2 linked regions of the Homo sapiens genome follow. The protein of the gene in region 1 purifies or fractionates together with the protein of each later gene. This does not show direct contact. Each region holds a gene or a part of one and is shown in the gene's direction. Other genes may lie near its edges. The genes, in order: ADIPOR1 and TLR4.

Region 1 (3,824 bases):
GATAGTGGGGTGATGAAGCTTTTCTCTTAAACACTTCATGAACAGACTTACTGCATCCTCTTCAACAGATGGAGAGACCAATTGTGGAATATATTTTCTACCTGAAAAGCACTATCTTTTGTGAGGCTTAGAGTGCCAGTGCACTGGCTGCTTTCCAAGACCTTGTACAAGCGTAACTTACTATTAGCCCAAGCCAAAGTAGGGTGTGGTAAATAGTCTATGCTTCATTCTGCTGGTGCTCCTACCCAGCAGTCAAGTAAAGCTTATCTTTGCTGCCCATGCATTGCTGGAAGCTCCAGATGTCCATCATCGTGTGCTTTCTCTCTTGCCCAGCCGTGAGCCTGAGGTTCTATTTGTTTGCTTGTTTTTGTTGTTATTGTTGGTTTTGGTGGCGACAGTGGTGTATTATTTTGTTTTTTCTAACAACACCAGTAAGAAGGTACATTTTCCTCATTTAAAAAGTCAACTAAGATAGAAAAAGCTAGAGTATCCCTTAATACTACTCCCAATTTAAGAATTTTGTTTTTAGAACTCATTCTATCAGAATAGGAGAATTTTCAAAGCCTTTCCTGAGTGTGATGCTGGGAACCAGCTGGATTGTGATGGAATTTCTAAATTCAAGTGTCTACTATGGGAGATACGGCTGTTCACTAGTAAGGGAAAGGGATAGAGTTCTTTGAATGGGGATTCTTAGAGATTTTTCCATCGTAAAATAGAAGTGACCTTGTGGAATTTTAATCCAGAATACAGGATAGATTGTATGGGAGTCTACAATACAGGATAGATTGAGGGAATGGTTAAATCTGGGAGCAGGTGGAGAACAGAAAGAGCTAGTTAAATGAGCCATACAAATTCATTTCCCCCACTGATTTGTTTCATTTTTGTGGTTCTTTTTAGACTGGACTATTCAGGGATTGCTCTTCTAATTATGGGGAGCTTTGTCCCCTGGCTCTATTATTCCTTCTACTGCTCCCCACAGCCACGGCTCATCTACCTCTCCATCGTCTGTGTCCTGGGCATTTCTGCCATCATTGTGGCGCAGTGGGACCGGTTTGCCACTCCTAAGCACCGGCAGACAAGAGCAGGTAGGTCGGAAGATGTACGTACACCTCAGAGGTATTTAGACCTTAGGCCTGATAGGCTCAAACCTATTTGAGCCTTAAGGTTTGCAGCTTGAGAACCCCACCCAAACCCTGATTTGTGTTTCAGAACTTTCAAAACAGCATCAATTTCAAAGCTCAGTTCTCAACCCCCAGTGTCATACTATTTCAGTAGAATGCCAATAGGACAGATCATTACCCAGCTGGTCAATTAACTGCAAGCACAGATGTAGCTACTCTTATACTTGGTTTGTGACAGTTTAAAAATGTAGCAAGCACAGTAATTTTAGTGACCCGAGTCCCAAGCTCAGACCAAGGGATTAAAATTAAAACACTCAGAGGCATTTTACTAAGGGAATGGAATACCTGGTTTGGTGAATGAAAATACCTTGAGCATAAACAGGTAACAAAGTAATAGCTACAAGCATAAACATCTTTGTGTTGTCTCATCTCATCTGGACTCTTATTTTAAGCTTTTATTACTTGCAGCAACACCACCAATTACCACTAGTCTTTAGTCCCTTTACAATTAATATCTGCTATGTTTTAACCTTCAGTTAAAATAATTAAATATTGTCCGGGAGCAGTGGCTCACGCCTGTAATCCCAGCACTTTGGGGGGCCGAGGCAGGCGGATCACTTGAAGTCAGGAGTTTGAGACCAGCCTGGCCGACATGGTAAAACCCTGTTTTTATTTAAAATATAAAAATTAGTCGGCGTTGTGGCAGGTGCCTGTAATTCCAGCTACTTGAGAGGCTGAGGCGGGAGAATCACTTGAACCTGGTCGGGGGCAGAGGTTGTAGTGAGCCAAGATCACGCCACTGCACTCCAGCCTGGGCAACAAAGCAAGACTCTATCTCAAAAAAAAAAAAGAAAGAAAGAAAGAAAAGAAAAAAATAATAATAATTAAATATTTATCAAGCACCAGCCACGTGCCATGCACTGTGCTTAAACAAAGGTATTTACAAAGATGGAGAGGTGGTCCCTGCCCTTCAGTTATGTGTAGTGTAATGATGAGACACATACCCATTCTTCCCTTGCTCTTGCCTTACTTGTGTGTCCCAGCAGCTACAGGATAACTGCTAATCTGGGTATATCTGTCTACTCAGGAGGTCAGAGTTCTGGTTATGTAAGACTTTTATGATCTTAACAGGAAGCCTATCCTATGCTTCTCTGACTTGGGAGGCAACTGAAGCCTTGACATCTAAGTTCTGTACCCAAGTTAGCCATCAGAGAGTCTTGACATACCATTTTTACCTAAATTCCTTAACAGATAATGAAGAATATGAGATCTTTGTTCTTGGTGCTTAAAAGGTAGTAAGCACTTACACAGCTTCTTCCCATTCAGGACATAGAAGAAATATCTGTTGAGTGTTATCCATCTTGTAGCTAAGTTTCCTAAACATGTACTATTCATCCAAAAATAGCTAATTATCATAAACATTGAAATTCCAGAGTAAGACAGCAGTGCCTTCCATGCGGTGGCTGTTTCCTTGTTTGACAGTCTTATGTCTGTTCTGTTCAGGCGTGTTCCTGGGACTTGGCTTGAGTGGCGTCGTGCCCACCATGCACTTTACTATCGCTGAGGGCTTTGTCAAGGCCACCACAGTGGGCCAGATGGGCTGGTTCTTCCTCATGGCTGTGATGTACATCACTGGAGCTGGCCTTTATGCTGCTCGAATTCCTGAGCGCTTCTTTCCTGGAAAATTTGACATATGGGTAAGAAATGAATCTTCCAGCAGGTCCTGTGATGGTGAGTGAACAGCCCAAAGTTAAAGGGCTGAGGAAAAGGTGGTATGAGACTGGGATCATATAGTGTTTGGAGGTACATATATGTGCATTGAAGGTAAATCATCAATATTAACATTTTGGTGTATCTCTGACAAGGACTGTGTTTTTAAAACTTTCTAAATATACCACTTTAATGTTATTAACAAATTTGTTTAATTAAGGATAAACTAGAAGAAGCAAATGCTTTCTCCTACTTGTTTCTTATTCCTCCTTGCATTATCCTAAAGGCTCTTTTCTTTTTATTCCTACAGTTCCAGTCTCATCAGATTTTCCATGTCCTGGTGGTGGCAGCAGCCTTTGTCCACTTCTATGGAGTCTCCAACCTTCAGGAATTCCGTTACGGCCTAGAAGGCGGCTGTACTGATGACACCCTTCTCTGAGCCTTCCCACCTGCGGGGTGGAGGAGGAACTTCCCAAGTGCTTTTAAAAATAACTTCTTTGCTGAAGTGAGAGGAAGAGTCTGAGTTGTCTGTTTCTAGAAGAAACCTCTTAGAGAATTCAGTACCAACCAAGCTTCAGCCCACTTTCACACCCACTGGGCAATAAACTTTCCATTTCCATTCTCCTAGCTGGGGATGGGGCATGGTCAAACTTAGCCATCCCCTCCTCAGCAAGGCATCTACCGGCCCCTCACAGAGACAGTACTTTGAAACTCATGTTGAGATTTTACCCTCTCCTCCAACCATTTTGGGAAAATTATGGACTGGGACTCTTCAGAAATTCTGTCTTTTCTTCTGGAAGAAAATGTCCCTCCCTTACCCCCATCCTTAACTTTGTATCCTGGCTTATAACAGGCCATCCATTTTTGTAGCACACTTTTCAAAAACAATTATATACCCTGGTCCCATCTTTCTAGGGCCTGGATCTGCTTATAGAGCAGGAAGAATAAAGCCACCAACTTTTACCTAGCCCGGCTAATCATGGAAGTGTGTCC
Region 2 (3,824 bases), on another chromosome or scaffold:
ATATCCGTGCTACATGTAAGTGTGGTTCTATTCATATTTGAATATGAATTCTGCATAAGTGTGTTTATTCAAGCAAATGTACAAGGCTCTGAGAAGGAAGATCAACATACAACTTGGAATATTTCAAGGCCGAAATATTCAAGGCTGACATTGGCCTCCTTCCTATCAGTTCCCTCTCCCAGATGGAAATTCTAGAAATGGCAGGTGAGGTGGACAAGCAGGGAAAGAAATTATATGCATAGAACAGAAGGAGAAGAAAGAGTAAAGTCAGGCCTCAGCCAGCCTCTTTTTAGCTCTTTAAATCCTCTGGATTTAAGAGGGATAAAGGGTGGAATAAGGATAAATTAATGCCAATTGTAATGCCTTAAATTTGTGTGATACCTTACAACTTGAAACATATTCACAAAACTATATATTTGAATATCTCATTAGCTGAGTAAGGTAGCAAATCATAATTAACTTTTTCCATTTTATTGATGGGAAAGCTGAAGTTCAATGAAGTAAATTTTTCAATAGCCCACAGAGTAGGAAAGTGACAAAACCTGAGCCTGGGCCTCCAGGTCACTCAAGGACACTTTCTTTCTTCCACACCCAATTGCTTCATGCTTAAAGTTGGCAAAACAGGAAGTGAAACTCCTGCAGTTTTCTGTGTGGTTGACACTAGCAAGGGTTTCTCAGTTGAAGCCATGAATCATTAAGCCAATACATATGCATATATGTTATACATACCAAATGATTTATTTATAACCCTATCTTTCCATAAAGGACTTGAAGGAGCTTCAAACAAAGGATATGTGAACAATAGGGTTAATCAATAATAAGTAGAAAATCTGGACATAGAATAAAAAGAGGAGAGAAAGACACCGAGAATGAGCGTTAATACAGTGCTTTCCATTTTTCTGGTGTTTTGAGTAGCGTGGCTTTTGGAGAAAGCCAAAACTCAAATTCACTCCTTATCAACTGTGTGCCTTGGGCTCCATTTCTCTGAGAGTCTACTTAGCTCCAATGTAAAATAAGAATAGAACTATGACTTTGTAAGGTTGCTCTAAGGATTGAAAATCATGTATTATGTTCAATACGGGGACACTGTCCTTATGGGTGAGTACTCCCCTAAGACTTTATTAAGAGGGCACTAGGAGAAGCACTGGGAGGTCTTCTCAGTAACAACACTAAAGTAATTGCTATTTTTCCAGCCTGTGGAACCACAGAAGTGACTGTAACTAAAATTAGACATTTCTTTCTGATTCATTCTCTACTCACGGGATTGTCAGACCCCAGTCTTCTTCTGGACTCTATAAACTTTTTAGAAATCATCAGCAGGCTCCTGGAGAAGCTTAAATGAACTCACACAATATGTGACAGTGAACTCCCTGGGAGAGTGAAAACCAAAGTCTAAGCCAGTGTCTCCATTTACTTGTGTGATTGTGGGCAAGTCATTCAAGTGCTTTGAGGCTCAGGTCTTAATTCATGAAATGGAGGTAATAATACCTTGTTGGCAGACCTCACTTGGTTAAAATGATAATGTTGATAGTTACAATAGTTACATTTAATTGATCAATTGTTTTATGCAAGGGCTTTATTTGTGCTATCTCAGTTTGTCACATCAATGAATTAGAAAGATACGAAAGTATTTCCAATTTACAAATGAGGAGTCTGAGTCTGGGAGTCATTCTGTCATGTGTCCACTGTCACCTGCTCATTGGTGGCAGCACTGAGATTAGGATCTAAGTCCACTTCACCGCAGAAGCAGGGCTTCTAAATACTGTTCTATGGCAAGAGCACCCTGCTCTCACAAAATGCATAAAACTTCCTATCTCACCATTATAATTTTGACTGATATTAAACAAAGAGAAGTATTATTATTATTACTTGTTTTTATTTATATTACAGCTGTAAGAGCCAGGAAAAATGTGATCTAAGTTATGTGATCAAAGATTTTTTAACAGTGAACAAATCAGGCCCACTAGATGATGGCCTTTCTTTGAACAACATGCCTAGGGTTGCTCTATCATGTCTACAGTTGGTCTGACTTCCTGACGGGCATCACAGACTTGTGATTAAACACAGAGGTTATGGGGGAAGTTCCAAAAGCTTAGGACTTTCCAGATGGTTGGAATAAGATCACACACTCTGGCTGCCCTTATGGAGATCACCGAACTTTTCAACTCAAAGTAAAATCTGTGGAGTAAATGGTCGATCAAAAGGAACCAACTATATTGAGCACCATGCGTGATCATCTGATCGTTACTGCTACCTTGTGAGTTAAAGGCTACTCTTCTCATTTTAGAAATGAGAAAAGAGATGCCCAGAGAGGACGAGTAACTTGCCTTAGGTCACACAGCTTATATTAATCACAATAACATTTGCCGCACCTTCTGTATTTTTTTTAAGTTGCTAAGCTTTTGGTGCATGTCTGGCACCGTTTTAGTTGTATATTATTTCATTTAATTGTTAAAATGACCTTCTGATGCAGGTATTTGTAGCTTTGCCATTCCACAGATGAAGAAACAGATGAAAGGACTGAATTGTTCAATAGGAAGGAGCAGAATCAGGATATGAACTTGGGTTGGCCTGATTCTTGGGGCTGCATTCTTTCCATAACATAATTGCTTGCTGTGATGTCCTGGGCTACTCTGCCAGGGGTGGTTAGTGGAGTGAATGGAGAATAATTTAGACAAGGTCAGTAACTCCCATGCCATCTAGAAATTAAAAGTTTAAAAGGCAGAGTCTGCAACTCTCCTTGATTTCTACAGAAATAAAGATGATCCCTCCTGTGACAGTGCTAAGTGACAATTCTGAGTGTAAATGCGCTTTTTGGCACAAATTGTCCTGTCCTAATAGTCTTGATTATAATTATAAAATAATGGGTTTCTGAAAGGCTGCAAGCAGTTCTGGGAATGGCAATAAAGGTTTAGAAATGACGTGATGTTTATGAGAGAAGTGTTTTGTTGAAAATTAAACTCACGTTTAGGAGAAAGGATTGTGTTGTATGCTCCTAGGAAACTATCTCACTATGTAATTAAATCAAAACCAGCCAGTTACCAATTTGAGCTCTTGACTCATACTAACAACACCCCATTTCCCATGGGCCAAGCAAGGCAGGACTGACCTGAAATAACCCAGCCTGACTCTATCCACAGCCACCCCAGGACCTTGCCCCTCCGTCTTCCTAGGGCTCGGCCGTGAGATGCTAGTGCATGACCCTTCCTCTTCCTGGGACTGTCCTTGTCTTTCCCTTTGGACTCTGGGAGGTCTGTTCTCCTCCTCAGAAAGGAATAAACACTCTTTCTATTTGTGGGATTCCCTAGGAGACACTATATAAAAATATAGAGTTAAAAAAACTATTTAAAAAAAAGACAACTTCATGTCTCTACTCTGACTTCATTCTTTTTAAGATGGGTAACAAAGACTCTCTTCAAGGTTAGAAAATTTTATTTTAATTTTTATAGATTTAGAGAGTGCAAATGCAGTTTTGTTACATGAATATATTGCATAATGGTTTAGTCTGGGCTGTTAGCGTAACCATCAACTGAACAGTGTACTTTGTACCTATTAGGTACTTTCTCATCCCTTAACCCCTTCCCACCTTTCTGAGTCCTCAATGTCTGTTATTTCATTCTCCATGTCCATGTCTACAAATTATTTAGTTTCCACTCATAAGTGAGAGCATGGATGGAACTGGAGAAGAGTATTTTCTATCCCAAGATCGGTTCCTTGATCTTGTGTCTCCAAATCACTTGCTCTCTCTCTTACATCTTTTCTATCTTCTTCTAGCCTCTTTTTGCAAACTTCATTTTGACAAAGAATTCCAGGCAGTCTACAGC

The links.
Region 2: the proteins of ADIPOR1 (region 1) and TLR4 purify together in Homo sapiens (co-immunoprecipitation; one study listed by IntAct). This does not show direct contact.

What each region holds. Positions count from the first base shown.
Region 1 is NC_000001.11:202,941,019-202,944,842, reverse strand, and holds part of ADIPOR1 (adiponectin receptor protein 1), read left to right. Parts: intron 1-897; coding exon 898-1,085; intron 1,086-2,624; coding exon 2,625-2,818; intron 2,819-3,141; coding exon 3,142-3,270; 3' UTR 3,271-3,824. UniProt on the Homo sapiens protein: Receptor for ADIPOQ, an essential hormone secreted by adipocytes that regulates glucose and lipid metabolism. Required for normal glucose and fat homeostasis and for maintaining a normal body weight.
Region 2 is NC_000009.12:117,717,654-117,721,477, forward strand, and holds part of TLR4 (toll-like receptor 4 isoform A precursor), read left to right. Parts: 3' UTR 1-3,824.